Linked DNA regions of Homo sapiens. The protein of the gene in region 3 interacts with the protein of the main gene of each other region in a pairwise test. Each region holds a gene or a part of one and is shown on either strand. Other genes may lie near its edges.

Region 1 (7,774 bases), on a different chromosome or scaffold from region 3:
TCATGTTGTTCTCGCGACAGTAAGTTCTCATGAAATCTGCTGGTTTTATACGGTGTTTTTCCCCCTTTTGCTCATTTTTCTCTCCTGCTGCCATGTGAAGAAGGACGTGTTTGCTTCCCCTTCCACCGTGATTCTATGTTTCCTGAGGCCTCCCCAGCCATGCTGAACTATATGAGTCAATTAAACCTCTTTCCTTTATATATTACCCAGTCTTGGGTATGTCTTTATCAGCAAGGTGAGAACAGGCTAATACACCATGCTACAGTGTTTTCAAATCCGTTGGAGGGTGGGAGCACAGACAAAATTGTTTGTGTTGAAAGCTGCAGTTCTTACGGGCCAAGGTTGAGGCCCAGTTGAGAAGAGGGCTCAGGGGAGCCTGACTAAAGTTTGGTCAAAAAGAGAGTCTCTGTGGATGGGTGGGTGGATGGTAGATAGATGACTGATGGATGGGTAATTGATAGACAAGGTATACCCGTTGGTGGGAAGGGTCAAGATGATAAGATCTAAAGGCATCCAAATTCACATAGGAAGTAGAAATCATTTCAGAGAAAAGGGGAAACTCCTTGACTCTTTTCAACAACTCGTTTCAAACATGTGTGTGGTAGATATTATAAGCCTCCCACTTGCTCATAAAAACTGCTAATGGGAACAAGCAGATACTCATCTAGTCCTTCCAAACCTGCATTTGTTTCCTGTAGGATATTTTCGAGGAATGAGTTTGTTTGCTTACTGTTGAAAATTCGTATTAGAGACCAATCCTGAGCTTACAGAAGGATCTCCTATGGAGCTGATGCTATCTGTTCCTATTAACATTTTATTAATGAAGCATCTTTCAATAGTTTTCCTTCCTTTCCCCTTGGCATCCTGCCTCTGAGAGGAGGAAGAGCTTTAACCCACTTTCCTCCCTTCCCCAACCCGTTTCCACTCTTCTCCACCTCCAGCTCACACACTGATCCAAAACAATCCCATGTGTGTGCGATCACGAGGCAAAGAGCTAGTTCTCCAGGTATGTGCCTGATTTCAGTGGCTCTATACAGCCCTAGGTTATAGCAGTTTGCATTTTCTCAGCAAGTCAACTATGATATTGTACAGATTTTTTTCATCTTTTCAGATGACAAAAATTAAACTAAGAATAGGCAATTTTATAAGTTAATACTTGAACACAGGTTTGAAGACAGGGATAGATTCAGGGTCTGTGGAACCTTGGGTTTATATAATTGGGGGGTGGGAATATAGAAAGAGTACTCTCCTTATTTAAAAAAAAAATCCAAAAGTACAAATACAAACTCAGGGATGACCACATGAACACACTGCCAGTGCCCCTCCCAGAGGGCTCCAAAGAAGCCTCTGTGACGGAGGGACCTGAGGCTTAGGTTCATTAGCTCCCCAGTCGATCTGCCTCTGCTGGAGATAGAAAGGACTAGAGAGGTTTCTGCCACAGCATTCAAATCTCTAGAAAATCGCTAAGCATAACAGTCTTCTATTACATCAATCCCCCAGATGCTATTCTTACCTCTCTTTCACAAACCACCATCCCTGCTGTTCCCTCCAATTTGGCAACAGCAATTCATTATAAAAGTGCGTATGCCGGAGTGGGTTTCGGCATCCTCCTGGATTTTGGCTTTAACAGTCTAGTTCCGTGTCAATTATGTAATAGCCCAAACAGGGAGTTTAATGGAGTACCAAAAGCACAGTCATAGCTCTTACATAAGCCTTCATAAACCATCCATAAGATCTGCTCCTAGATTTGGATATTTGGGATTACATAAGGGAGACAGAAAACACTGACTCAGAGGCCAGGTTTCTTTCTGACCTTAAAAACAATAAAAACTTTTTGCACTTAATTTACTAGTTTATAGTAAAAGTTTTTAATTTGATATGGAAAATAATCTTTCCTATGACTTACTTTACCGTGTAAACATAAATGAATATCCTGCCACTACTACTCAACTTTCATTGGTACTTCTGCAAATGAAATATATCACTTAAGATTCCCGTAAGTATTCTACATGGAATTATGGGTCCCTAATAAACATCAACTACTCTTCGCAGGAAAATCAAGAAAGAGCATTTAGACAAAACACAAAAGTCTACATGCTGTAATTCTCTGATGTGTCCCCTTTCCAATACCATTTTTTTCTTCCCATGTTTCTAACAACGTATTTTTGACTTACCTTAAACCACTGTAGCAACACCATAGGCTACAGAAAGTGACAATACAATGCTCCACAATGGGTCTCACCCCTGGCTACACGTTAGAATCACCAGGAAAGCTTTTTAACATTACAGGTATCAAGGTATCAGCCCAGACCAATTAGAACAGAATACTGGGTGGAGGAGGGACAAGGGCTGTTCCCAGCCATCAGTATATCTGATGTTTTCTACTTTTGTATTTTTACCTGAAAAAAATAGCCATAAATGTGAGTACTGGTTTTGGGGCCTGGGGAAAGGGAAGGGAAAGAGAGACACATCTTTAATAACTGGCAACTCACAATTACTAAGTTTCCATCAGAGATAAAAATAAAATCATTCAATAGTTTGAAAACTAGAAAGTATACATGTAGGATCTTTTTATCAATAAGTAGTCAAAGAATTCTCACCAATTCCTAATAGACTTTACAAAACCAATTTTTTAATGCTTTACAATTATACCTAATGACTTTTTTAATATAGGGTCCTATATTATCTTAAAAGGGTACCTCAAGCTAAGACCACTGCTTATCTCCAAGTAAACTAAAAGCATGACACTCTCTTCTTAGGTGCTCTGGTAATCACACATAACTTTACCAATGAGCAAATTTTTTTAAGCATTTATATAACAGAGAGTACAGGCGCCTTTGGTATCCTGCCAAGAGTACTTCTTTCCGTGTTTGTATTTAAAATAGAATGGTAGTAACATCACTTGTGTGCCTGTAATTCCTTCTGTGCACAGGCACAGAATGAAAAAAAAAAATGGATGTAGCAAGCCGCTTCACTGCTTTACCATTATAAAGCTTGAAGGAAATAACACACTCATACTAAATTAAGACGAAGACTCAGACCAAATTATCCAAAGCTGGGGGTGGGTAGGGGAGAACTCGCCTTAACTAACCTACCAACGCCTCTAAAGCAGTGGGTGTTGAACCTGGCAGCAAGCGAAGGTGCCAAAAGAGCTGCAGTCCCTAAGCCAGAGCAGGTGATGTGGGCAGGAAGCATCAGCGCTCTGGAGACGAGAAGCCGAACCAGCCCGGCGCTGCCCCGAGCCCGGCTGCGCGCTCCCCAACTCCGCTCACCTGTCTCCGGCGGGTCCAGAGGGCGGCAGCAGAGCCAGCCGACCCCACCGGACCGCGCAGCAGAGGATTCGCTCACCTGGGTCAAAAAGAGCCAAGAAAGATGTAATGTCCAAGAGGCCACCACTGCCCTCACGGAGACGCTCATCTCGGGCCGGGTTCCGCCACGCTGCTTCCTCCTCCTCTCCAGCTCGAGTTTTCTATTTACCGACAGGTCTGTACTCCGCTAAGCGGTCAAGGGTTTCCGCAGAAGGGGGGAGATAAACTTGCCCTGAGAGCCGGCGGCGGCGGCGCAGGTGGAGCGCGAGGGGCGCCCCCGCACCTGGAGCCGCCGGCGCTCGCTATCACCTCTGCCCGCCCACGCCCGCGCCGCGGCTGCGCTCCGCTCCGCGCCCCCGCACTCACCTCGGCGCAGGCACCGCCCAGGCCGCCGCCCCCGCTCGAGGGCCGGGGCGCAGCCGGGGACCGGAGCCGCCCGCACGACGCCCAGGCGCTCCCGGCTCCGCCGCGGCCGCGGCTGCTCCTCCAGCCGCCTCGCCTGGACAAAGAGAAGCCGCGGGGCCGGCGGCCGCCCAGCCCAACCTTCGCAGCGCGCCACGCAGCCGGCGCGCCTCGCCCGCGAGGTGCCGTCCGCGGTGACAGTGGCCGGGCGGCGAGCGGGCCCGAGCGGTAGGCGGCGCGGGGCAGCTGATGCGCGCACCCCCTCCCGGCCGCCCGGAGACGCACTCGCCGAGACCCAGGCGCCTCCTCCCGGCCCGCGCTCCGCGCCCCGCGCCCCGCGTCGCAGCTCCGCAGCCGGGAGCCGTAGCGCCCTCTGCCGACGGCCCCTGCGCCCGCTCCTGCGCGCGCGCCTGCCCGCCCCAGCCCCAGCCCCAGCCCCAGCCCCAGCCCCAGCCCCAGCCCCCGCCCCCGCCCCAGCTCCCGCCTCAGCCCCAGCCCCAGCTCCAGCCCCAGACCCAGACCCAGACCCAGCCTCCGCAGGCGGTGGGCGCGGCGCGGGCCGCTGCCCGCTGCGCGGCTGGTCACCGTGGTGCCCTAGCATCGGACCCCAGGAGAAAGGAGTAAGAATGAGTTGGCCGTTCCAGGGCAGGCCTCCAGGAATGGGTTCCGCTGTTTTCCGCTCAGAACAGAAGAGGGAGCCGCTTCGAATTAGGCGCAGCAGGAGGCATTGGGGTTCAGCATCGGGAAGAACTTTGGAGGACGCTAGGGTGCCTGATTCATAGGAGCCCAAAGCCAGTCTCTGAAAAGATTTGCGCAAAAGGCAGGCGTTTCTTTCTAGAAGCAAGCTTATTTCTATGTTTAATGAGCACCAAATGTGCCTCCCCACTGTCCGAGGGGTTCCAGCGAGCCTTGACTGCTCTTATGGTAAGGTAAATAGATTAATTAATGATTTCTCAAAGACCTTTTTCCAGTCCTACCTGAAATGCTCAGACTCCCTCACGCGGTGCACCTGGAGGTTTGAAAAGGCAAGCGAAACCAGAGGACTTCTGCAGACTGATTCAAACAGCAATGGAATAAACATTTACCATTATAAAGATGAAACGATGTTGCTGGTCTTTGCACTATTTAGGTTGGCGTTTTTTGTTTTTAGGGGATGTCTTTCCAAACCACTGTGTTAACCAATACTTTATGACAGTTAATTTTTTTTTTTAACCAACTGGACTACTTGGTGAAGGGAAATCATGAAATGGCACTTTTTTTTTTCAGACCACTGTCTTTAAAAATTATTCCAGAAGCTCTCCCTTCTCCCCTGGAAGAATCTGGGGCAAATTTCATAGCTTTTCCTGTCACTTTCAGGTGTTCATAAACAGTCAGATTTGCTGATAATAAAAAGTCCAGCCCAATCCAAATCAAAACTTTAATCGCAATCCATTCAAGCCTTCCCCACTAGCCTCCCACCACCCACCAGACCCCAACCTGACCCAAGCTCAGAAGCCTGCAAGGAGGAGGAAAACGACCTTCGCTTCCTGCTTCTGTGTTCTCCCCAGCTAGCTCTGTGAAGACGGGTTCCACCGCCGGGCACGGAGGCTCACGCTTGTAATCCCAGCACTTTGGGAGGCTGAGGCCGGTGGATTACTTGAGGTCAGGAGTTCGAGACCAGCCTGGCCAACATGGTGAAACCCTGTCTCTACTAAAAATACAAAAATTAGCTGGGTGTGGTGGCGTGCACCTGCAATTCCATCTCCTCAGGAGAATTGCTTGAACCTGGGAGGTGGAAGTTGCAATGAGCCGAGATCATGCCACTGCACTCCAACTGGGCGACAGAGCAAGCCTCTGTCAAAAAAAGAAGCCGGATGCGGTGGCTCACGCCTATAATCTCAGCACTTTGGGAGGCCGAGGTGGATGAATCACGAGGTCAAGAGATCGAGACCATCCTGGCCAACGTGGTGAAACCCCGTCTCTATGAAAAATACAAAAAGTTTAGCTGGACATGGTGCCACATGCCTCTAGGCTCCTCTACTCGGAGGCTGAGGCAGGAGAATCGCTTGAACCCGGGAGGTGGAGGTTGCAGTTCACGGAGATCGCTCCACTGCACTCCAGCCTGGCGACAGAGCGAGATCCGTTTCAAAAAAAAAAAAAACACTGGTTTCTCAAGTTGGGCAGGGTGGGGTTCTGACCCTGCAACTTCAGCCTCAGCTTCACTGGTGGTCAGCCTCATTCAGGCCCTCTGCAAGGCACCATGCCCTGGCAGTCAGTCCCAGCTACCTTCCACCACGTGCGTGCTGACCCACGGACACCAACTGGCATTTGGCCCATCACGCTATAGAAGTGCAGGCCACTGTCACTGCAGTTCTCTTTTCTTCTTCTCTGGTCACAGGTAACTCTGACCGGCCTCTTTCCTTGAAGCTTCTCAGCCATCTCTGGGTTCATGCATGTCCCCACACTCCAGGTGACACATGCCAGGCTCTCCAAGTAGTTCTTTGGAAGCATGCCTTTCTTTGCATGAAGTGGGTGGGTCCTCCTTCTCCCTGTCAGCACCGTGTCGTTCTCATCTTCTCCCTTGATTGCTCTCTCCTTTCCTTCAATTTGGTCTGAAGGTGGCAGAACCCCAACTTAGCAAATCCTACAAAGATGGTCCAATACCTCCATTTATATGGATTTATGTGTGGGGATACCTATCTGTGTGGTGGCATGGAGGGAGGTGATCCCCTGAGATCTTGGAAGCTTGAGCAACTGACAGCCTTCAGCTGTCACACATTTGGATCCACCACAGAGCTCATACCAAGGTCACACATTCCCCAGCTGTTTCCAGCTCACAACGGAACATGGTGAGAGCGCTAGAGCTATGCCCTTTCTGCCTCTAGTGGGCAGTCTTTGCTCTGGAATTCCTACCACCCTACCAGGGCTTTCTCAGAATGTGCTGCAGTCTGGAGCTCTTCCTACCCAATCTTCTTCCCTTCCCTCTCTCCATTCACAAGTGTCAGACCTGTATTGCAGTCAGAAGGCACTCCTCACCTGCATGCCAGGCTCCTTCTCCCTCCTGCACTATCCTGCACAGGTGTTTTCTTTAAAATATTTTGGCACATCTAATCCTATCTTGACATCTGCTTTTCAGAGGTCCCAAACTGTCATAGTTATCTATTGGCCCACCTGGCAGCATTCCAAGATAAGTCTTATTTTAACAGTTGGTTATGCTGTATTTAGAAACTGTGAAAAGAACAATGGCAAAATCATGGAGCCAACCTGAATGTCAATGAACAGTTGACTGGATAAAGAAGATGTGGTCCATATATTAATGCATCATGGAATATTATGCAGCCATCAAAAAGAATGAAATCATGTCTCTTGCAGTGACATGGGCTGGAGCTGGAGGCCATTATCCTAAGTGAAGTAATTCAGAAACAGAAAACCAAGTACCACACATTCTCACTTATAAGTGGGAGCTAAACAATGAGTACACATGGACATAAAGATGGAAATAATAGACACTGGGTCACCAAAAGAGGGGAGGGTGGGCAGGGGGCGAGAGCTGAAAAATTACCTATGGGGTACAGTGTTCACTGTTTGGGTAATGGGTACACTAGAAGCCCAATCTCCAGTATGCTCATGTAACAAACAGGCACATGTACCCCCTGAATCTAAAATAAAATTAATTTTTTTTGAGATGGTGTTTCACTCTGTCACCCAGGCTGGAGTGCAGTGGCACAATCTCAGCTCGCCACAACCTCCACCTCCAGGTTCAAGTTATTATCCTGCCTCCGCCTCCCGAGTAGCTGGGATTACAGGTGCATGCCACCATATCCAGGCTAATTTTTGTATTTTTAGTTAAGATGGGTTTTCACCATGTTGGCAAGGCTGTTCTCGAACTCCTGACCCCAAGTGATCCGCCCGCCTCAGCCTCCCAAAGTACTGGGATTACAGGCATGAACCACCGCGCCCAGCCAAATTAAATTAAAAAAAAAAAAAGCTGTGAAAGGAAGAGTAGAATGTTCTCTTGAATTAAATATATATATATATATATATATATATATATATATATATATGATCAGCAAGTATCATAGTGT
Region 2 (7,621 bases), on a different chromosome or scaffold from region 3:
AGTTCTTCTGGTAGGCTTCACTTAACTGGGACTTTTACTCTAGCGTGAGGAGGGGGCCTCCTAAGGAAAGTCATGCTGGGTAAACTGTGCGATGTTACAGAGCACATTGAGTCTGTGGTCATCGTGGTTCTTCTATCTTCACTGTCACCTGTATCCTGTTACACATACTCAGTTCCTAATTGTAAGCTCAATTTTGGTATTAGCAAAAGCATCTGTCAGTTTTTCCTCAATTACTCACACCTCTTCTTGCCTAAATAAAACAAAGAAACAAAGAAAACAAGTGTGGTGTCATTACACGTCTCGGGAGTTCCTCGTCACTGACTTTATATATATAAAAAAAAGAATGCACATGCGGGCCACGTTCACAGATAGACAGATTCACCCGAAATGAGAATGAGGGCCTTAAGGCTGCCGAAAACAAATGGGTGGAAATAGCAACGTTGTTTCCGTCAATTCCAAATGTGCACTGGCTGCGTGAGACAAGCCAATCTCCAATTCCTATGCTTTTTTCATTAAAAAGAAAAAACTATCTCGAGAGGAAAAAGTTCTGGTCAAATAGGAGTTCAGTGTTTGTTATCTGGTAACAGTTTTTTTATCTTCCTACAATTACTTGGGGAAGGAGTGTCTTCGGGGAGGAAAAACTGACACACTGACAAGGCTCCCGAAATTGGACAGAATGGTTAAGGATATAGCTCTTCCTTTTGGGTTTTTCTACCAGTAGGCTTCTAGCACCTGAATTTTCACACACTGCACCACAGACCTTCTCCAAACGCCTCTCCGACCCCACAGCTTCTGCACCCAGCTGCGTCCGCCAGCACGAGGCGCAGTAGGAAACGCCCCAGTGCAGAGTGGGTGACGGCAGTGTGATCCCTGAGGAGGGAGCTGCAGCAGCTTCAGAAGCGGGATGTTCTCTGAAAATACCAACACGATCCATGACATACAGACCTGAATTTTCTCTATTTTTGTGGCGTTTCACGTTTCTCTCAAGAGGATTAATAATTTTGGTGGTGGATTTACGTTAAGAGGAAAGAAGGACCAAAAAAAAAAAATCCCACAGCCACCTGACCTGAAGTCGCTTTCATTCTCATTTAGCCTAGGAGACCGATCAACAGCAAAACCAACCTGGATAAGGCTGAATAAGGATGTTAAAGCCCAAACAACTAGCAAAGGAAAAGTACACAATCGATGGCTTGATGTTACATATGGCTGTAATGTAGAAATACTGTAAACTGCAATTTAGTGTTAATACTGTCAACTAATCAGAGACTTCGGAAAACTGGCAAGGCCTAAACCATAAGGATGAATGAGACCTCAGGTTCTAAGTCTGTCAGTCTGGGATTTACACTGTTCCATGTCTGTAGGCTACACCCTGGAAAACATGCAGAGCCGAGACAGATGAGATAGAAAGTACCCAAAACGAGAGACGAGAGCGTATGTACATAAAAATCCTTACTGGAACCACAGAACTTACTGAATGAGGGCCATTCCTCTTTAAGTTTTCTTTTCATCTGAAAACCCTATTATCTAGCAATAAGTTAAATTAGAGACAGACAGCTCCACTTGCATGAATCTACAGAACAGTCCAGACGCCAGTGTGAGGCTGCTATTCCAATACCAGCACAGCTAGCCTGACTTTCCACTAGTGGTATTTTGGCAAAAATGTCAAAGAGGCGATCAAAGACAGGACAGGTCGTGGGTTTCTCCCTGGGAAGGTCATCCCTCCCTTTCCCTCCCCCACCCGACCCCCAACTCATGGGAAAAAAATAAAGACTGCAGTAGTAGCATCCGCGTGCGCTGCCAGTTCCCCTGGGGCCTTAATTGTTGCCTTCGCCGCCATCGTCGTCCTGCTGGTCGCTCGTCCAGAGCGTGAGGTTGTCGCGGAGGAGCTGCATGATGAGCGTGGAGTCCTTGTAGGAGTCCTCGTTGAGGGTGTCAAGCTCGGCGATGGCGTCGTCGAACGCGGTCTTGGCCAAGTGGCACGCTTGCTCTGGGGCGTTCTGGATCTCATAGTAGAAGACGGAGTAGTTAAGAGCCAGGCCTAATCGGATGGGGTGGGTGGGCTGCATGTGCTCTTTGCTGATCTCGTGGGCTTCGCTGTAGGCCTTCTCGGAGGACTCCACCACCGTCGCCCTTTTCTCTCCGGTGGCCACTTCAGCCAGGTAGCGGTAGTAGTCCCCTTTCATCTTCAGGTAGAACACTTTGCTCTCGTACTGGGTCTCGCTGCAATTCTTGATCAGGTAGTTATCCAGCAGGCTCAGCACATCCTGGCACACAGCCTCCAACTCCTTCTCTATCTTCTCCCGGTACGCACGGACCATCTCAATCTTCTTCTCATTGCCGTCTGCAGATGTCTTCTGCTCAATGCTACTGATGACCCTCCAGGAAGAGCGGCGTGCCCCCACAACGTTCTTGTAGGCCACAGACAGAAGGTTTCGTTCCTCATTCGACAGTGGCTCATTCAGCTCTGTCACCTGCCAGGAGGAAAGAACAGAGTTGTTATGGTACAGATGGTGTCCACTGGGTTAACTGTATCTTTGAGACACTAGAACAGAGCTCTGTTGAGTAACATGATGAACAGAAGGAAATTACTTTGTGTGGGCTGGGGGAAGGGGGCTGGAGGTGGAGCACACACAAGGGAGGGAAAAGTGCGGCTGGATCAATGGATCAACGGTGTCTGAACCCTGGCTTCCTCCCCAGAAAAGGACACAGGCTTATCACGTGTGTTCCACAAAACACTGTCAAGTCTAGGCCTTAGATGAGAGACTATGAGTACAGATGGTCTAACTCAGTGGTTTTTTAGGAAAACGGACTGACAAATTCCTCCTAATCCTGCCCTGTCTACTAAACTTCAGTCCCATCTCTTCTGGATAAGAAAATACTGAGTCAACTTCAAGCTGACTTCTGAGAAACATGGAGGCCTTTCTGCTCATATGCCAACACCATGTGAATTCTAAACCTCAGGGAGTCCAAATAAGGGGCATAGGATTGAGTCTGATCGCTGTGATACTTTAGCAACCCAGGGAACATGTTATTTGTGGCAGTGGGAGTGTCTGACTGAATACAACTTTACAACCAGCAATACAAAAGAACGAGGCGAGCACAGCGCCTCTAGCTGGGCAACAGGAATCAATGCTTCTCCCAAGATGGCCATTTCTCAAGGCTCCCGCCCTCATCACCCCCAAGGCTAATCACTTTCAGAAGACTAAAGTGGCATCTCAAACCAATGTTGTATATTTTTATGACTACAAATAACTGCTTATTAATATCAGCCAATAATACTAAATTTATTTACCTGGTTTCTATAGTATCAGAGTCATATACTATTACATTACTTGACAACCATATGAAATACATTATTATTATTATTATATTTGACACAGGGTCTCATTCTATTGCCCAGCCTGGAGTGCAGCAGCAGGATCACAGATCACTGCAGCCTCAACCTCCCCAGGCTCAGATGATTCTCCCACCTCTGCCTACCGAGGAGCTGGGACTACCAGCACATGCCAACTGGCTGGGGATGGGGAGAGGAGAGGAGAGGAGAGAAGAAAAGTGGTTACTCCCTGTCCCTTGAGTCCCCATTGTTCCGTGTTGATCAACTGCAGCATCTGTATAACATTATATTACATACAGAGACGACAGGTAGGGACCTAGAATCCAAAAAGATCTACTAAACCAAGCTTATCCAACCTGTGGCCCACAGGCTGCATGTAGCCCAGGATGGCTTTGAATGCAGCCCAACACAAATTCGTAAACTCTATTAAAACACTGAGAATTCTTTTTGCGATTTTTTTTTTTTTTTTAGCTCATCAACTATTGTTAGTGTTAGTGTATTTTATGTGTGGCCCAAGGGAATGTGGCCCAGGGAAGCCAAAAGACTGGACACCCCTGTACTAAACTCCTGGGGCATGGGGGAACTGAACTACCAGGAGACTTTTTTTTCTATGTTTGAATCATTATGTTCAGTATGTTGGCCCATGCCTGTAATCCCAGTGCTTTGAGACACCAGGTGGGGAGGACTGCTTGAGGCCAGGAGTTCAAGACCAGCCTGGCCAACATAACAAGGCCCCATCTCAAAAAAAAAAAAATTTTTTTTCTTAAATTATAAACGGGGGGTATGCTTGGCAAAAGTGATTACAGTCATTACTTCAAGCAGCATCTACTCAGAGATAATTAAATCAAAACATAAACCAAATCATGCTTATTAGTTTATGGCAGGCAATTCATTTTCTGAATGAATGATCAGCAAGTGCTACACGCTCAAATATTCTCTAAACTGATTAGTGGTGTTGTTAAAGTTAACATTTTCCTAGACATTACTGATGCTCTGTTTTAATGCTGGACAACGTTACTCCTACCAGCCGTGCCCTCAGTGAAACAGACTCAAAAGAGGGGAAGAATAGGGGGTGGGTACTACTTGAGTTCAGAGCAGAAGGAAACCAGGAAAGAGATGCTTTGCTCCACCACCTCTTGTTCCCGGCACTTCTGCAAACACTCCTCCTGCATGAATAAACACAGGCACCTCGTGTCTCATTCTGCACTGACGATCTGTCATCCAGCAGACCGCTGTCACTCATGCTGAATTCTGATGTGTCCACAAATAACGGAAGATTGGGCTTTTCCCAGCTCCATCATTCGCTAAGCAATCTTGGGGACAAGCCGCTTCATTTCTCTGGGCTTTGGTTTTCTTATCTGCAAAATGGGGATTTCTGCTTCTTTCATAAGGTAATATACAGGTATATCAGACAAATAAGAAAGTCTTTTTTTGTTCTTTTTGAGACATGGTCTTACTCTGTTTCCCAAGCTGAAGTGCAGAGGCATGATCACACCTCACTGCAGCCTCAAACTACTGGGCTCAAGCAATCCTCCCACCTCAATCTCCAGAGTACCTGGGACTACAGGTGTGCACCACCATGCATGGCTGATTTCTTTTTTTTTTTTTTTTGGAGACAGAGTTTCAAAAAGACCTGGTCTCACTCTGTTGCCCAGGCTGGAGTGCAATGGCATGATGTCGGCTCACTGCAACCTCCCCCCAAGTTCAAGCGATTCTCCTGCCTCAGCCTCCCGAGTAGCTGGGATTACAGGCGTGTGCCACCATGCCTGGCTAGTTTTTGTATTTTTAGTAGAGACAGCGTTTTGCCATGTTGGCCAGGATGGTCTCAAACTCCTGGCCTCAAGTGATCCACCCGCCTCAGTCTATGGCTGATTTATTTATTTCTTTATTTAGAGATGGGGTCTCACTATATCAATCCGCTGGAAGTGCAGTGGCACTATCTTGGCTCACTGCAACCTCAGCCTCCCAGGGCTTCAAGCAATCCTACCTTAGCCTCCTGAGTGGCTGGGACTAAGGCACATGCCACCACACCCAGCTAATTTTTGTATTTTTCTGTAGAGACAAGGTCTTGCCATGTTGCCCAGGCTGGCCTTGAACTCCTGGCCTCAAGTGATCCACCCACCTTAGCCTCCCAAAGTGTTAGGATTACAGGTGTGAGCCACTGCATCCAGCCATTTAAAAATTTTTAGTAGAGACAAGGTCTCACTATGTTGCCCAGGCTGGTCTTGAACCCTTAGTTCAAGTGATCCTCCCACCTTGGCCGCTCAGAGTGCTGGGATTACAGGTGACAGCCATTGTGCCCAGCAAAGTCTTCTTGAAAAAGTAAAATGCTACAGAAACATGAGGAACTACTTTTAAGAATACCCTGAATAATTTTCCTTCATTTTAGTTCTCACCACAGGGGATGTCTACATTTCCTAACGATCTCCCAGCTCATCTTCCTGTATCGAGTGTCTCTTCTCCGTTTCATCCTCTTCTCTATATTAAGCGGAAACTGCCTTAGCTGCCTCACATCGCTTCCTTTCCATAAACCCTAGTTCCATACAGCCTGAAAAAAAACTGCCCAGACTTGGCTTTGGAAGGAGCTGAGCCCTTGGGCGCTGCTGCCACCCATCTCTGGCATACTTTACTGAGTGTGCGAATGCTGAAGACAAACCGCCCCGCGGTGCAGCCCTCATGACTGCCTCCAGTGCAAGGAGAGGCCAGCGTGCCGAAGGCCACAAAGATCAAGTTCTGGCCTTTCCCCTAAATCATGTTGTCCTTATTTCAAGGGCCAGGAGCTATTTAAAGCTCAAATTATCTCACCAGTCCTGGGGGCACTCCTCCTGCCACAAATGAAGTCTCCCAGCAGTGCCCAGAGAGGCAATCTGTACTTATGTAAAGTCTGCCTAGCTGTCCCCAGACACATTGGAACAAGGAGATTATGAAATGCCAGGATCACCTTTGGATACAGTAGCTCGACCACATTTGGAACACGCCCAGATGTTCCCTGCCAGTGAAAAACTAAGTTAGAGGGGAAACCCTTCAGCTCTAAAAAGTCTAAAGAAAAGTTGTTCTGAACACCTTAAATCAAAATTTTTAAAAATCCTTTATCCTTTAGATCATAATTACTTGCATAAGAATCTGTTATTTTTAAATTAAAATAAGAGATCCCCACCATATTAGTTTTAAAGGTCAACAGATAACCTCTTAAAAGAACAAGTTATTCTAATAGTGTCTAAAATGATTTAATCAAGACAGAATGACAGAATGACTATTCAATGTGGGAAGATACGGGATCTTGTATCATTTGGGAAGGGAGGTAACATTTTTCAAAACAGTCATTAAATTTGTTGTTGTTGTTTAAACAGAGACAGGGTCTCACTCTGTTGCCCTGGCTGGAGTACAGTGGTGCAATCACAGCTCACTGCAGCCACGCCACAAACTCCTCTGCCTCAGCCTCCAGAGAAGCTGGGACTACAGGCATCTACCACCACGCCCCCTAATTTTTGTATTTTTTGTAGGGACCAGGGTCACCCTATGTTGTCCAGGCTGGTTTCGAACTCCTGAGCACAAGTGATCCTCCAGCCTTGGCCTCCTAAAGTTCTGGGATTACAAACATGAGCCATTCTGCCTAACCTTCTTCTTCTTTAAAAAAAAAAAGAAAGAAAGAAAGAAAAGAAAAGAAATGGGGTCTCACTCTGTTGCCCAGGCTGGAGAGAAATGGCGTGATCACAGCTCACTGCAGCCTCAACTTCTCAGGCTCAGGTGATCCTCCCACCTCAGCCTCCCATCACACCCTGGTTAATAAATTGTTTCTACGAATGCAACACTTGTAAACATGGTCCCCAAAATTTACTGTCATGGCTGTTGGAAAATGTAGAAAGTTTCAGTTTTTATTCCCCAGAGTTGTATGTTCTGCTTAAAAACAAAGTTTCTGCCTTCTCTACTACTACAAGCTCAAGTTCAAATTTCTTATTTTTATTTTATTTATTTTTTTTGAGATGGAGTCCCACTCTGTCACCAGGCTGGAGTGCAGTGGCACAATCCCGGCTCACTGCAACCTCTGCCTCCTGGGTTCAAGCGATTCTCCTGCCTCAGCCTCCCGAGTACCTGGGATTACAGGCGTGTGCCACTACGCCCAGCTAATTTTTGTACTTTTAATAGAGACGGGGTTTCATCATGTTGGCCAGGATGGTCTTGATCTCCTGACCTTGTGATCCGCCCGCCTCGGCCTCCCAAAGTGCTGGGATTACAGGCGTGAGCCACCGCGCCCGGCCTCAAATTTCTTTTGGTGACTTAAAAGAT
Region 3 (8,572 bases):
GAGCCCAGGAGGCAGAGGCTGCAGTGAGCCGAGATCGTGCCACCGTACTCCAGGGTGACAGAGTGATACTCTACCACAAAAAAAAAAAACGAATATGATATAGTGTGATATAGTCTCTGCCACTTGGAAATTCAAAGCCTGTTGAGGACTATTATATCATCATTCCTACCACTCTCATTACATTTTCTAGGGTTTCATTTATTCATCAAAGAAAAGAGAAAGATGAAAGTAACTTATTTTGGTTTTTCCACCTAACATTATTGTTAAAGTTTTACTTTTCAGTATTAGCACTGCTTTTAGAAAAATCCATGGAGAGCACAAATGAGACAGCTGCCTAAGCAACTAGGCTTAGCCCTAGACAACATTTATTCAGAATTGTCCATTGACTTGTGGCAAGCAACATTTTGGTATAAAACTAAATATGATGTCAACTTGCATTAAGTCTAGTTCTATTGGTGGAAGACTGATCTGGGAGCTCAGAAATCTATTAGGGTAGGGGTGTCCAATCTTTTGGTTTTCCTGGGCCACACTGGAAGAAGAATTGTCTTGGGCCACACATAAAATACACTAACACTAATGATAGCTGATGAGCTTAAAAGCAAAATTGCAAAAATATCTCATGTTTCTTTAAGAAACTTTATGAATTTGTGCTGGGCCGCATTCAAACCCATCCTTGGCCACATGTGAGCCTCGGGTTGGACAAGCTTATGTTAGGGTCTTATCTCCAATCTTGGCGAGCTGTATAATTATGGATAAATAATCTCACCTGTCCAAGCCTCAAATCCTCATCTATACAATGATAAGGCTAACCTAGATGATCTCTAAGAGTCATTTCAAATATAATTTTATCTTCATCATTCCTACCACTCCATTACATTTTCGAGGGATCTCATTTATTCATCAAACAATTATTAAACACCTAGTGTGTCTCTGGCACAGTGATCTCACTGAGCTTACATTTTGATTGTCCCACTGGCATATTAGAAAATTGGTTAACACATAAGCTTAAAGTTAATAATGGGATTAAAAAATGGTTAAGTGGCTTGTTTATTTGGCTTAGAACTCATAGAATGATGCATTTACGGATCAGTACGAAACTCTCCACATTTGACAGTACTCAGAAAATAAGAATGTTATTAAAACACTGTTGCTAATCAGAATTTAATAGGCCTACCACTGACATGATACTCTGATTAAAAGCAACTGCCAATATATATAGCCCCTATTTCTGGCCCATAAAAGACAAAAAGGTATGATAAAGTCAGCTTTCGTGGGGAGAGAATCTCAGTCCAATCTCTAACACGAATACGTGTCTGAGTAACAGTCTGTACTGATCCTTCTTGTCAACTTTTAATCCTTCTAACTGATGAAAAGCATGAGACATGTGTTTATTTTAAGTACATGCTAGTGGCTGGCTTTCTTATTTTCACCTAGCTTTGTACAATTGTACAGAATTCATTAAATGCTTAATAGAAACACTCACGCCCCCCTACTCAACTCCAAGCAGGGAGTGGGGCTAAAAGGATAACTCAGTTGCTCATAAAGAACACACAAAAATTAAATCCTAGAAGGAAGTCGGAAAAAAGAACAAATAATAACACAAGGCAAACTATGGTATTACAGAAGTCAAAACTTCAGGGTCTTAATATGGTGCTCACTCCCTGTTAAGACAAAAGTAAATAAAACTAAGAGTTCCTATAATAGGAGAACAGGAAAGAAAGGAGGACGGGAGATAACATTTACTCAGCACTTAACAGGTGCCAGGCACTATGCAGGTAGTTTTCACTTATTCTTCTCAAGAACTACACATATGAAAATATGCCTCAATAGGTGATCATCTACAATAAGAGTTAACCACTTTCCTTCATAAAAATGATTCCAACAGCCTAGGAGTGTATTCTAATGCACATGCACTGTGGATGTAAATAATCATTCTGCCTAAAATCTTGTATTTGGGACTGATATAGGTCTTGGGTCACCTAGGCAACCCATCCATCTTATGAAAGATTTAACTTAGGCCAGACAAGATAAAGGGCTGGACTAAGGTCATGCTTGTTTAGAAGCAGAGTTGAGATCAAACCAATAATCAACACATCGATATGCCCCTCTGCTGGTAACTGTTCAGCGAAATTTAGTAACTACTAAGTTACCACCTATTAGTACTTTATTAAAACAATCCTAATAATCCCATTATACAAATAGCACAGAATCTCAAAAGAATAATTTGTTAATTTCTATATATTTTTAAAACCAACTGATAAGCAGTAACCTGCGTTTGAACGTATGTCTATTGCCCTGACTGCTCTCCACATAAAGATGCCAGATGCAAAGCAATGTTGGGGGAACTGGGGGTGATCGGTCGCTGAGGTAAAGATCGCCTCCTATAAAGCCCCACGTTGATGATCCTGGCCCTGGGCTCCCTGTCCCCTCCGCGATTTGTAACCCCTGAGCCGGGCGGGAGGACGGAGGATGAGTGTGCAGTAAAGAGGCTCCCGCGCCCTCGGCTCGCCGATTCCCCTCGCGACGCCGGGCCGGTTCCGAACGCGGACCGGACCGTTAAGGGGCTGCCTGGGCCGCTACGCCCCGCGCGGGCCGCCCCTCCCCCACCGCGGCCTGAGGAGAGCGGCGCTGCCGGCCGGGCCCCCGCGGCTCCCCGAGCGAACAATACAGGGGGTCCCCCGCGAGGCTGAACGCCAAGGCCCCGCACCGCGGGCCTCGCAGACAGCGTCGAGCCGCAAGGCCGCGAGAGACCACCCCGCAGGAGAGCGAGTGAGGAGGCGGTTATTCAGGGGGTTCAGAGGCCGCCGTGGCCTGACCGTACCTGGCTCCAGGTGATGAACTCGTTAGTGTGGGTTTCCTCCACAAGCGTCCACAGCTTGCTGAGGAAAGCCGGCACGTTCGAACTCTGCTTCATTGTTAACGCGGCGCAGGGATTCCAAATTCTACACCCGAACGCGGTGGTAGCGGCGGCGGCAGCTACGGCAGCAGCTCCCCGAGAACGCCCACAACGCAGGCGCAGCAGATCTTGGTCCCCGCCCCCCCAACCCCGCCAGGCGCGCGGCAAGGCCGAGAGGCCGGGCGGCCGCACGTGACGGACAAGTCTCCGCGCTCCGCCTGTGCGCGCAGTGGTTCCGCGCCTGTCCCGTCCCTGGCCAATCCCAGGAGCCGACTGCACGACAGAGAAAAGCGATTGGCTGCTGCTGACATGAAGGGGGTGGGAGCAGAAGGGGGTGGGAGCAGAAGGGGGCGCTGCCTCCTCATTTGCCTTTTATACAGAAGCCTTGATGGTAGCAGACTTAGGCTTGGGAGACCGTGTTTGGATGTTTCACGTGGAAACAGCTTATGGTTTCTGGGCTGTGGCTGGGAGGCTACAGAAACCCTTCAGGGCCTTTGAGTCATAAGTTTGGCAGGCAAAGTGTGGTTTGCACCAGTTTAGAGAAAGGATCCATTTGCATAAGGAAAAAACCAGCTCTCAAGCATGATGTGCTAGGCCCCAAATTGAAATTGTCTTAAAAATAATGAAACTTGTTCTTACATTTTCATTGGGAGAAAAAGCCCTCTTTAAAATATGTTTATCAAAAAGAGCAGTTTAAATAACTCACTCTCGATTACTTAAAACTGTAAACCAGGAACTGCAATTGATATATCATGTGCTGTTTTTAATCCAGTCATCAAGTGCCTACTCTGTACCCAGAATAAAAAGAAATAGACTCATTTGTACTATTTTAGTTAATTAAAATAGTTTTTCCTGCGTATACTTTACAGATATAGTCTTTTTTGCCTAAGAGATTGGTATAGTGGAAAAAACAATGGAAAAGGAGTCAGTAGATCTCAGTTTAGATAAAGCCTCTTGGACATTTTTCTGTATATTAAAATACACTGGTTCTGTCATTTAGAACAATTCCTTAGCCACCAGTGCCAGTTTTTTCCATTTCTTGACTGGGAATAAGATCTATCTTTTTACCCACTAAGAGTGTCTTTAATACTATAATGGCTGTGCAAATGCTTTGAAAATATGAAGTCTACAAAATTCGACTTTTTTTTTTTACAAAAGTCAGCATGTGAAGGCAAAAACTTACAAACAAGTCAGAGATAACATACAAAACTTCAACATAGGATTGGTTTACTTCTTGGGTGAATGTAAAATAGTACATTAAATATATATCTATCATTTAATGGAAGATATATGTATATCTCTTCCAATGAGCAAGTATTTAGTGAATGCTGCCTTTGTGCTCAGCACTGGGATGTTGGCTGAAGCAAAATCAGATATATGGAGGCATGCATGTGATAGAGGAAGTAATATTTGATGAGCCCTTATATATGCCAAGGGCTTTACATATATTATTGAATCCTCACAACAACCCAATGAACTAGGTTTTATTATCCCATTTTCCCAGAGAAGATTCTGAGACTCAAAAGTTGATTAATTTCTTCAGTCACAGCAAGTAAATGGGAGAGTATTTACACCCAAGCTTTATTGAGCTCAAAAGTATGTGCCCTTTCCATTGTACAATGATGACACTGTTTCAAAGCTCAAGATGCTTATATTCAAACTCAAGAAACAATATGACCACAGTGATCAGCACTCAATATATACAAAAAGAGCTAAATGTTTTGTATAAAATAAGTACTAGATAAGTTTAAAAAGACAGATTAGTAGGTTAAGGTGGTAAGGAAGGATTTCATGGCAGATAGGGACCTTAAGTTGGGTCTTGAGGTACAAATATATTTGAATAGCTAAAAGGAAGACAACAGAATGAGCAAAAACCAGGAAGCTAATGATCATGTCTGTCTATGGAGGGCAACAGCTCAGGAGGTAAGAATGGCAGTGTCTAAGGAGGAAATGTGGCCTACTTTCATGGCATTATATTATTTTCTTCTAAAAAAAGAAGGTGTGATTAGATAGAAGCAGAAACTTGTCTTTGGACATTCAAAGGCTGGGCATTCATAGGGCTGGGCTTAGTGGGGTGCCATACTTAGTTTAATGCTCTGTTCTCATCCTCTTGAAATTCTCAGTTTTTGAACAAGGGACTGTACATTTTCATTTTGCAATGGATCTTGCAAATTGTGTAGCTGATTCTGTTTCCAATGTATGGCATCTTATAGACCGTAAGTTTGAAACAAATGGTTCTCAAACTTAAGCATGCGTCTGAATCACTTGGAGAGGGAAGCCTTCCAGTAAGCAAATGAGCAATATCACTTATCAGGTAGTATTTGTAATACTTATAAGGGCAGTGACAAGGATAAGTTATTAACCAGATAAGAAAACCTTGGCACCAGAAAACTTAGATGATGTATCCAAAATCATCTAGTTAAGGTTGGAATTGAAACCAGGTCTTTCGTAGTCTGAAACATGCTTTTTAAATTTACACCAATGTGTCTCAAACTTTAGCGCAGAATCACCTGGACAGCTTCTTAAAGAACAAATTGCTGCTTTTGCTTCCATGGCTCTCAGTAAGTCTGGGGTACAGGTTAAGAATTTTTATTTTTAACAAGTCCCAGATGACGCAGATGCTACTGGCCCTGGGACCGCATTTTGAGAATTGCTGTTATAGAGGAAAAATTAGTAAACTGAGCTTCCCTTACTACTAAGATGTACAGATTTATTGTTATGCTTTACTTCTGTCTGTTTTTTTTTTTTTTTTTTTTTTGACAGAGACTTACTCTGTCATCCAGGCTGGCAGGCTGGAGTGCAGTGGTGTGATCTTGGCTCACTGCAAACTCTGCCTCCCGGGTTCAAGCAATTCTGCTTCAGCCTCCTGAGTAGCTGGGATTACAGGTCTGCACCACGAAACCTCACTAATTTTTGTATTCTTAGAAGAGATGGGGTTTCACGATGTTGGCCAGGCTGGTCTTGAACTCCTGAGCTCAAGTGATCTGCCACCTTGGCCTCCCAAAGTAATAAGATTACAGGTGTGAGCAACTGCACCTGGCCACCCTTCATCTCTTAATAAAATCCAGATGTTCCAGGAATAACTTAAACGACTATGTTTTGTTTTTCTATGAACTTATAATCGTTAATATTTATTATAATTAGTACATTTTCTGAAAAACTAAGTATTGAATGCAGACTTTTTTTGGGGAAAAGGAAATTATAACTTGGCTTGTTTGCACTTATTTATAAAACTGAGAGGGGAAGAAAACAAAATCAAGCTTTATCTCACAATTATTTGCCACCTATAATATCCCTAAAATATCAGAAGAAACAGATTTGCGCCAGTGTCGACAATTTTGACATGTTTATAACACAAGAAGATAAAAATGTCACTTTCTTAAAGGAGTTGCCTCCTGTTAACTCCAGTTTAAAAAGCTGGATTATTTTCATGGTTCATTTGCAGCCTAGAATGTAAGACTTAGATTTAGAATAACATTCAAAAATATGAATGATCCAGACCTTTGTCTAGGAAATAGAAAAGCATATTATGGAGCAATTTGATGCTTCAAATCATCAGACGATGCCATAAATTCTATCCAATCGATTTTGCAAAACTAATTGGAATCAACGGTGCAACCAGTATTAGCTTTTAAAGATTTTTTTTTCAAGGATAGGATGATTAAATCCAAAGGTGAACTGCATAGAGGTTTCCACCTATATTGCTATCTGGACAAAGTGTTGATTTTCTTCAATTTTGGAATGACTTAGGGGACCTTAGGCAAATCACCTAACATTTTCTAGTCCTCGTTCCTTATATATAAGATGTGAGTGAAAAATATCTGCTATGCTCACTTCACAGGGTGGTTTTGAAGATCAAAGAAATTGTCTCTTCCTCCAGTCCACTTTCACAATCTTTATGGATCTCTTTCTAAAACACAAATCTGAAAAGGTCACTTCCTGACTTAAAACTATTCAGTGACTTCCCATAATTTCCAGAATAAATTCAAACCCCTTAAGGGGCATAAAAGGCCTTCTCTGATCTGATGCCGCCTACCATTTCAGTTATTGTCTACCATTGTTTACAACGCCTTTCCCTTAGCCACACCTAATTGCTTGTAGTTACCTTACTGGTCATATTCTTTTATACCTCTATGTATTTCCATAGGCTGTTGTCTCTGCCTGCAGAGCCCTTCTTCACCATTTTCCCCTAAATTCTTCTTCAACCTTCCAGGTCAAGTACAATCCCGTACAAACATAAGTTCTTTTGTGAAATCTTCCTTGGTAACATTTATTATAGCACTTACTACATCATATTATAATTATTTATTTACATGTATTTTTCATTCTAGACTATGAAACTGCTTCAACATAAATACTATGTCATATGTACATTCACTTATTTACAATGACATTCACAATGCATGATATATGTTAAAATATCAATAAATATTTGTTGAATTAATAAATGAATACATGAACAGGTAAGTGCTAATCATCTGTTTATTCTTGCATGACCCCCAAATCTGGGTTAGTTGTTCCTCCCATGTGCTCCTATAGCTCTGGAACTTGACCTTCATAGTTTTTACCACACTATTGCTGCTCATTTACTTCTCAACAACCCTTACTAGACTAGCAGATTGTGCTTGCATTGTTCACTCTTGTATCCTGAGCACTCAACACAGTGCTAATAATAACGTAGGAACTGCTCAATAAATATTTGTTGAATTAATAATTTTAGCTTTTGAAATCCTTTGGATAAAATGTGCTCTACCTAATAATAAGGAAACCCCTTACAATTTATTCTCAGTCAGTAGAAACCTTTTTGTTTACAAGAGAAGAAAATGAAGAGAAGAGCTTAAGGATAGCTCAACTGAGAAGCATGCGAATGAGGAGCTGTTAGTAACTGAACAAATATTAGAATCCTGGAAATGCCAGATGTTAACAGAATGCTATAGAGGCCCAGGTTTGAGGTCACTTATATCTTCAAAACAAATGACAGTGGCAAAATGCTTAAGGACTCTTGAATAGGCTTTTGAGTAAGTGAAGAGCTAGAAGACTGTGAAAGTTAATTTTTAAAATTTTTCAAGAAGTTTTCTTCTTCTAAGGCTACAACCTGGGTGCAAAAGACACTAGCCAGAGGAGCTTTTTACATGGGAAATGTGTTAGTACTGCTTGTACCAGACTCGGGCTGGAACTGCTCTACATTAAAACTCCAATCTATGCCAGATTTGCTAGAATCCAATCAGTCATCCAACTAGGGTGACAAACTAGTTCAGGTTAGCACAATACATTTCCAGTTTTAATACTGAAAGTCCTATGTCCCAGGAAATCCCTCAGCCCCAGGCAAACCAGATTGTTTGATCACCCTAACTCAGCCTCTTCCAGTTATTTATGTTGGACAGGAAGCAGAGGCTCTTTAAGCAAAGCAAAATATTGTATAGCGACAATGTAGATACGGGATCTGGAAACTCTAATGCAGCTTTGGCCTTTCTGGAAGCAGTGCGGAGGCTCTCTTTCACAGGCACTCCAACAGCTAGCTGATAAATAGAAGGAATTGATGTACCCCTGCAACTCAAGGTCCCCGTGAAGGCTCAGACACACACAGAGAGATGTTGATAAGAAAGAAAATTCAAGGCTAAAAACCGTCAAGGACTGGAAACATTAGAAAAATGGAGTGGAATAGAGAAATGGCCT
Region 4 (7,621 bases), on a different chromosome or scaffold from region 3:
GTCACAAGGTGGGGCCATGTCACAGCGCTCAGCCTGGCCCTTACTGGGGCTTAGGATTCTTTTTTTTTTTTTTTTTTTTGAGACAGAATCTCATTCTGTCATCCAGGCTGGAGTGCAATGGTGTGATCTCAGCTCACTGCAACCTCCGCCTCCCAGGTTCAAGTGATTCTTTGCCTCAGCCTCCTGAGCAGCTGGGATTACAGGCACGCGCCACTACGCCCAGCTAATTTTTGTATTTTTAATAGAGATGGGGTTTTGCCATGTTGCCCAAGCTGGTCTCAAACTCCTGACCTCAAGTGATCTGCCTGCCTCAGCCTCCCAAATTGTTGGGATTACAGGTGTGAGCCACCGCACCCGGCCTTGGGCTCAGGAGTCTCAGTCCAGAACAGTCTTGGCTGGGAAGGGGCTCAGGGTGTGGAGCCTCGCTCACTAGTCTGTGTGTGCTGCTCTTCCAGGGGGAGGTGACCATCCACTACAACAAGCTGCAGGCGGACCCCAAGCAGGGCATGTCCCTGGACATTGGTAAGCTGGTCAGAGCAGTTACGGGTGTCCAGCAGCCTCCCTGGATGGGCCCTGGCCCAAAGGAGAAGTGCCACAGCCAGCCCTGCCCTCCCCTTTATGACAGGAGAATCCAGAGTTACATGGCTGTGGGCTCTGACCTCTGACCAAGCAAATCTGAAAGGCCTGGGAGGCCTCCCGGTGCTCTCCCTGCATCTGTTCTTGTACTCTGTCCCTGGTTTCTCACTCCCCCGCGTTTCACCCCTACCTCCCTGCTTCTGCCATCTCCTCTGGGGACTTGCTACCCTAGGGTTGTCCTTTGCAGGCCAGCGCCTCGGCTTCCATGGCCCAGGGCCTCACTCTTCATAAAGGGAGAGCAGCCTAACCCTGGCCTGGCGCCTCATGCCCTCTAGCACAGCGCACTCCTCCCTGGCCTCTCCTGCCATCAGCTCCCAGGGGGACTCTGGATCTGAACTGGACCTCAGGCATTGGGCAGAGGGTCTGCGCCCTGGGACAAGTTCCCTCCTGTTAGAGGGGCTGAGCCTCGGTTCTGTAGAAACTTTAAGACTCAAGAGCTGGACAGCAGCTTCGAGTCCTCTGGACCGGCCGCTTCACATTATGGATCAAAGCCTGAGACCCAGAGAGGGCGCTGCAGCCCCTGGTGAGCGCACACCTAGGTCTCAGCTCTGGAGCCCAGCAATCCCCTTCATACACCCTAGGGCCAGAGGCCAAGGGGCTAAGGGCAGGCTGGATCTATCTGGGAGCTCCCTCCGAAACCCTCTGGTTCCAACACAGGACTAAGTCCCCTTCCTAGGACTAAGCTGGTCAGATGCAGTAACTGAGTCTGGGGTCCGAGCTTCATGGTCATTGATGGTGCCCATTACTTTCACATAACCAGCCCAGGGGCCCCTCTTCTCCCCCTCCCCTTTATGTGACACCCTAGGTCCTGATGTGACACAGAGGAGGGGAAGAGGCCTCCTTGGCTTCCATTAGCCTGTGCTGAGCCCGGGCAGCACTGGGCTCTCAGCAACCAGCAGCTGATGTTGCGTAGCAGGCCCTGGGCGAAGCGCTTCATGTTTAACTGCCCAGGCTGCCAGCACCTCTGTGAAGCAGAGGGAATAGGGCAGGGGCCTAGGACCTCCCCACTGGACATTCCCCACTTCACAGCCACCCCCAGCAGCCCTTCTGCCCCCTGTGGGGTGCTCCCTGTGCATGGAGGTAAGGCTGGGGGCAGGGATGGCCTCTGGGCAGCCACAGACTCACCAGGTCCTTTGTCCCCCGCTCAGTGTTGAAGAAAGTCAAGCACCGGCTGGTGGAGAACATGAGTTCAGGGACCGCAGATGCTCTGGGCCTGAGCCGGGCCATCCTGTGCAATGGTGAGTCCCTTCCCACCCAGCTGGGGCCCCGGGGACTCAAGCCCAGGCTGAGAAGAGTGGGGGGCACCATGGCTGCCCACCAAGCTGCTGTGGGTCCCGCGGGTCTGACCCTGGCCTCTGCCCGTGGAACTGAGAAGTCACCATCTCTGTACCCCCAGAGGCCTCTCCAGCTCCCGGAGGGTCCACAGCTGTCAGCTGGGCTGTCTTAGCCAGTGCCCCTCAGGTCACAGATGGGAAAATAGACTTAGTGTGGGGAGGTGCCTCTGCCCCTGCCCTCAGCCCCTTACCCCTCACCCCAGCACTCTCGCGGCCCACCTCCTGCCTCCTTTGTCCAGGAGGTGGTGCTGCTGCCCTTGCCTCTGCAGGTCCTCCCTTCGTGGTGGCTGCGCAGGCGAGGGGGGAGGCGTGTACATGCACATTTACACACGCATGCACACATGCGCACACACTTTCCCTCCCTGGGGTGGCCAGCGAAACACTCAGTCCCCCTCCTACCGTCGCCAGTCCGAGTTTAAAAATAGCAGCAGCTCTGCAGTGTGCCTGTGGGGTAGATATAAATACTTCTAGAAATTGTAGGCTCAGCTGGGCACACTGGGCTTTATTGGCTAAGGAAGTGGGGGTGGGGACTGAGCTTGTTCCAAATGGTGTACAAAAGTGGCGGCTGCTATTTTCAGCCTCCTGGTGCCGTGCCTATAAATCCCTGTTACTGTAGTTACCAGCCGTTGAGATGAAATTAGAACTGGTTGTTGTGTTTTTCCCCCCAAACCTTGCAATTTCCCTGGCCTTAAATAGGGTTTCTAAAATTGAAGCTGTCATGATGTCCCATGACCCAGCTAAAAACAACAACACGATGCTTACATGGCTCCTTTCCTGCCGCTGGCCAGGTGCTAAGGCTCTGGGGAACCCAGGCCTGGAGGCCACCGGGTGGCCAAAGCCTCCCCAAGACCTCTGAATTGCTCCCTTCCTTCCCCGACAGCCTGTCGCACTGCCACCTCCCTGCCCAGAGAGGCCTGAACACAGCCTCCGCTCCTCCCCTCTTCTGCTAAAAAACCCTGACCCAGGTCAACACAGGAGGCTGGGGAGCAGAGAGCACCTGACTGCCCCACCTCTCCCCTGCAGCCCTCACCATCACACTGCTGTCCATCGCCCGGCCACTGGGCTGGCTTCTCTGCTGGGCTTTCAGCCTTGAGAGCAAGACTTGGCTCAAAGTGAGCCTGACATGGTGGCTGGCACACAGTGGGTGCTCAAGAAACACTAAGCCAATGACTGATCACCAAGGCCTCTTCCCAGTGTGAGCTCTCTCAGCCTTCCTGAATTTCCCCCTCCCTCCCCAAGTTGCGTTTTCCCTTCTGAGCCATCTGTGTGCTTGGGAGGCAGAGACCATGTCCTTCCTGCGCTAGAGGCCTGGCTGCTCCATCTCCATTCCTATGGCCCCTGCCAGCCTTCCTCCCCAGCTGTCAGCAGGCTTTGTGTTAGAAGTGTGGGAGCTTTGCCTGCTAGGCACGGACCCTCCGCTGGCCATGAGGAGGGCCTAGTCATTTACAAAACACCTTTGAACCCAGCTGACCCGAGCTGCCAAATCCCCCTCCCTGGGACCCCTGATCTTTCCCTTCCTGGTTCTCCTCTGGGGTTGCCTCTCCCCTCCCCAGCATGGCCCTGGGCCTCCTGTGGCTTGCTGAGCCCACTGACCTCCCCTCTTCTTTGAATCCCGACAGATGGGCTTGTCAAGAGGCTAGAGGAGCTGGAGCGGACCGCTGAGCTATACAAAGGTGGGTGGGGGGTGGCCTCGTCCTGGCACTAGCTCTACCCCAGGGAGCATGCTCTCAGCAGAGTGGCAACAGGGGTGCTGGCACTAGGAATGCCAGCCTACAAAATACTAGGACCATGGGCATTAAGAGTTCTTAAGAATATATACTTCTTCTGAATTTAAAAATAACTCAGGGGCCTGGTGCAGTGGCTCACGCCTGTAATCCCAGCACTTTGGGAGGCTGAGGTGGGCGGATCACTTAAGGTCAGGAGTTTGAGACCAGCCCGGCCAACATGGTGAAACGCCATCTCTACTGAAAATACAAAAATTAGCCAGGCATGATGGTGTGTGCCTATAATCAGTACTCGAGAGGCTGAGGCATGAGAATCGCTTGAACCAGGGAGGCAGAGGTTGCAGTGAGCCAAGATCACACCACCGCACTCTAGTCTGGGCAATAGAGCAAGACCCTATCTCAAAAAAAACAAAACCTGATACTCATAAAAATTCAGAGAATAGCACTTGTAAACATAGCGAGAGTCCCCCGGAATCCCACACTGTCCCAGGGCTAAAGCCCACAGCAGGCTGTGTACCCCTGCATCTTACAAAATGCTGGCGCCCCTGTCTGATGGGGCTCCTCACGGGTTGGGTCGGACTGAGCTTTTACCCCTGGGCTGTGGTTGGGCGGTGGGGAAAGGCCATGTATCAGGGCCTAGCAGAGGCCTTGGGTGGCATGGGCAATTGGAGGCCTTGCCCTGGGCCAGTGTGGTCCCCGCCATGCGTCCCCATTCCGCATCACTCGGTCTCTCCCACAGGGATGACGGAACACACCAAGAACCTCCTACGGGCCTTTTATGAGCTGTCGCAGACTCACCGGGGTAATGGCATCCCCCAAAGCTGTGGTGTGACCGTGGGCAATCCCTGGGGCCTCTCACTCCCATGCTGAGGTGGGTCAGACCCACAGCGCCTGACCTCAGGCTCCCTCTGGGCTGGGCCTGGTCCCAGGTGCTGGGATTTGCGATGGGCCTGCGGGGAACATCTAGATCAGCTGGTCTCTTAAGGGCCGCAACGATGAACAGGCCCCACCCTGTCTCCTCACACTGCCACTGGCAGTACACAAGGCCCTTGCTTATTTATATTTCTGACAACCTGTAACTCTGGGCAGGCCGACTGCAGCTGACCCCAGCTACTGCAGAAAATGAAGCCCAGACAAAGGAGAGGGCCACACTGCTCCCAAGTGGTGGAGCTGTTGTTCCAATCCAGGTGTCTAGACTCGGACCAGTGTTCTGCCTCAGGCGGCGCCACCTCCACAAACCTTGACCCAGTCTTCTCTCACTGGTCCCTCTGGGGAATGAGGGCCAACTCCCTTGGTGTGTACACTCAGGACTCTAGGGGGCACAGACCAGCTCTTGGAGGTGTCAATCCAGTTTCCTCCAGGTGTAGACTCAGCTCCTTCAGGGGGTTTAGACCAGCTCTCTTGGAGGTGTAGCCCCTGTGCAGACATTGGCTTCCAGCCTGCCAGGCCCCCTGCCCTGCTTCTCCCCAACAAACCCCTGGCTTCTCTTAGGGGGCCAAGTAGGGGCAGCCTTCAAGGCAAACTTGTCCTGCAGCCTTTGGGGACGTGTTCTCCGTGATCGGGGTGCGGGAGCCCCAGCCAGCTGCGAGCGAGGCTTTTGTGAAGTTCGCCGATGCCCACCGCAGCATCGAGAAGTTCGGCATTCGGCTTCTGAAAACCATCAAGCCGGTAGGTCCTATTGAGCATGTGTGTGTCTGGCGTGTGAGGGTGGGGAGGGGAGAGTGTGGCATGCAGAGAAGGTCGTATGCTGGAGTCCTGTGCCTGGGTACAGCCTCTGGCTCAGTCACCCACACAGTGGACTGTGGGTGAGTCACTGTGCCCCCTTGGGCCTTGCCATTGACCTCTGGGCTGGCTTCTGACCCTGGCTCGCCACTGAGTCACAGCTTGCCCTAGGCCTGGCACTAGTCTTCTCATCCTTGAGAGGGACAAGGCATCAGGGAGCACCATCTGGCTCTGATAGTCGAGTCCACCAACAAGGGTGACGCATCAGTGCCATTCATTGTCACCCTGGCACACCCCTGCCGTGACAGCCTCAGCATCCACCCACCCTCTTCCAGATGCTGACGGATCTGAACACGTACCTCAACAAAGCCATCCCGGACACTCGCCTCACCATCAAGAAGTACCTGGACGTGAAGTTTGAGTACCTGGTGAGTAGTCCAGGTGCCCAGGCTGCTAGGGCAAGCGCCCACCCTGGAGATCTGCCCCACTTCAGTCAGCCATGCTGCGGCCAGCGAGGCCAGCCAGAGCTGACAGCATGTCTGCTCCAGGTGTGGGCCCAGAGGCCCAGGGAGGTGCAGCCAAAGCCCTGCTGCGCCTGCACAAAGAAGCATCTGAGAGCCTGGGGCGGGCATGGCTCTCGCTGTGTGCACTCTGACCCCTTGGGATTTGTTGCCTTTAAACAATGGGTTAGACTAGGTGAGTGAGCATAAAATGGGTGTCAGTGAACGTTCGTGAGTTTTACATTTAATTATTCTACAGTCAAAGGAATTGAGAGAAAATGCTCTATTAAGCAAGCCAAGGTTCCTTTGCTGCAGGACTTATCAGAGCCTTTGCTAGGCTGATGTGCAGTGTGAATTTTCAAGGGTCTTCCTAAGCTCCTTTAACGACAGACCCCTTTTTCCCCAGAGCATCTCTTGGGCCTTGAGTTTGGTCAACTCGGCCGCCTAAGCCTCAGGCCCTGTCATCCCTCAGCACCTGCCGCTGCCCGCTCTGGGACTCCCTGAACACCTGCGCCAGCCTCTCCTGCTGCGTGTGGGTGATGGGGGTGGAGCTGGGGACCTGGGGTGGGGGTAGTAGCCACTCTGACAGCCTCACCTGTCCCACACAGTCGTACTGCCTGAAGGTGAAGGAGATGGATGACGAGGAATACAGCTGCATTGTGAGTGTTGGAGGGGGTGGGGGGCTTGTACTTCCCCCCACCTGGTCTGCCAGGGATAGCAGGTGGCTCAGGCCAACCCGGGAGAGACCGGGGGGACTTGGCTGGACTCTCGTTCCTGGAGATTTAGGGCCATCTTCCCAGTCCCGCTCGCTGGGCCTCGGGGTGCTGGGCACCCGGCCGGGAACCACTCCCTCAGTCTGGGGGACTCTTGGAGGGAAATCGGATTTTCTTCACTCCTATGAGGCGCTTTTAAGTGTTTGATTTTTCTGCTGTCGGGATCCATTTCGTGGCCAGTGTTCATTGAATGTGGCAGAGGTTTGGGTTTGGTTTTTTCCTCTCTTCAAAGCTATCACTGAGTGCTTCTGAGAAACACTGAAGTCTCAGAAATGAGGTCTCAGGAATGAAGAACAGCCGTGGCTTTGAAAGCACAGTGCGGTGCGAGGCCGTCCCTGAGCAGGCACTCCTGTCCCACCCCCGCCCCAGGCCCTAGGCGAGCCCCTTTACCGGGTGAGCACCGGCAACTATGAGTACCGCCTGATCCTGCGCTGCCGCCAGGAGGCGCGCGCCCGCTTCTCCCAGATGCGCAAGGATGTGCTGGAGAAGATGGAGCTGCTGGACCAGAAGCACGGTGAGCGCCGCCCTCCTCCCCGTCCGCTCTCCATTTCAGAGGTGGGAAAACTGAGGCCCAGAGGGGTACTCTCAGGGCCAGGCCACGGCCCAGATGTAAAGCCCCTCCAGGAGCCCAGCCATCTGCCCAGAGCCTGGCCTGGGTGGAGCTGGCCTGTGCGCGTGGGCTCCGTGGGCTGCCATCCATGATCCATTTACCCTGCAGCCTCCTGCGTTCCCTGAACTGGGAGCGGGGAGGCCCCGGGCTGGGCGGCCCCTGCCTCCGCCCCTTGCCAGGTCATGAGGGGTCAGGGAAGTGCCCGAGTGGGAAGCCCAGGGGAGGCGAGAGGTGGGCCGGGTGGGCTGGGAGAGTCTCCTCCCTGAGGCAGGCAGCCAGAGCCCACTGCAGCCTGTCCCCCGACCTCCCACCCCAGTCCAGG

Evidence for each region.
Region 1: the proteins of HSF2 (region 3) and MTUS2 interact in binary tests that used the Homo sapiens proteins (3 or more experiments, as listed by UniProt).
Region 2: the proteins of HSF2 (region 3) and YWHAG interact in binary tests that used the Homo sapiens proteins (3 or more experiments, as listed by UniProt).
Region 4: the proteins of HSF2 (region 3) and PICK1 interact in binary tests that used the Homo sapiens proteins (3 or more experiments, as listed by UniProt).

The regions. Positions count from the first base shown.
Region 1 is NC_000013.11:28,816,186-28,823,959, reverse strand, and holds the start of MTUS2 (microtubule-associated tumor suppressor candidate 2), read right to left. Parts: upstream 3,622-7,774; 5' UTR 3,349-3,621; intron 1-3,348. UniProt on the Homo sapiens protein: Binds microtubules. Together with MAPRE1 may target the microtubule depolymerase KIF2C to the plus-end of microtubules. May regulate the dynamics of microtubules at their growing distal tip.
Region 2 is NC_000007.14:76,327,763-76,335,383, forward strand, and holds part of YWHAG (14-3-3 protein gamma), read right to left. Parts: intron 2,472-7,621; coding exon 1,815-2,471; 3' UTR 1-1,814. UniProt on the Homo sapiens protein: Adapter protein implicated in the regulation of a large spectrum of both general and specialized signaling pathways. Binds to a large number of partners, usually by recognition of a phosphoserine or phosphothreonine motif.
Region 3 is NC_000006.12:122,394,080-122,402,651, reverse strand, and holds the start of HSF2 (heat shock factor protein 2), read right to left. Parts: upstream 3,001-8,572; 5' UTR 2,915-3,000; coding exon 2,822-2,914; intron 1-2,821. UniProt on the Homo sapiens protein: DNA-binding protein that specifically binds heat shock promoter elements (HSE) and activates transcription. In higher eukaryotes, HSF is unable to bind to the HSE unless the cells are heat shocked.
Region 4 is NC_000022.11:38,067,249-38,074,869, forward strand, and holds part of PICK1 (PRKCA-binding protein), read left to right. Parts: intron 1-455; coding exon 456-522; intron 523-823; exon of another isoform or gene 824-900; coding exon of another isoform or gene 901-1,159; intron 1,160-1,784; coding exon 1,785-1,874; intron 1,875-3,589; coding exon 3,590-3,643; intron 3,644-4,433; coding exon 4,434-4,496; intron 4,497-5,228; coding exon 5,229-5,362; intron 5,363-5,751; coding exon 5,752-5,844; intron 5,845-6,524; coding exon 6,525-6,575; intron 6,576-7,058; coding exon 7,059-7,203; intron 7,204-7,615; coding exon 7,616-7,621. UniProt on the Homo sapiens protein: Probable adapter protein that bind to and organize the subcellular localization of a variety of membrane proteins containing some PDZ recognition sequence.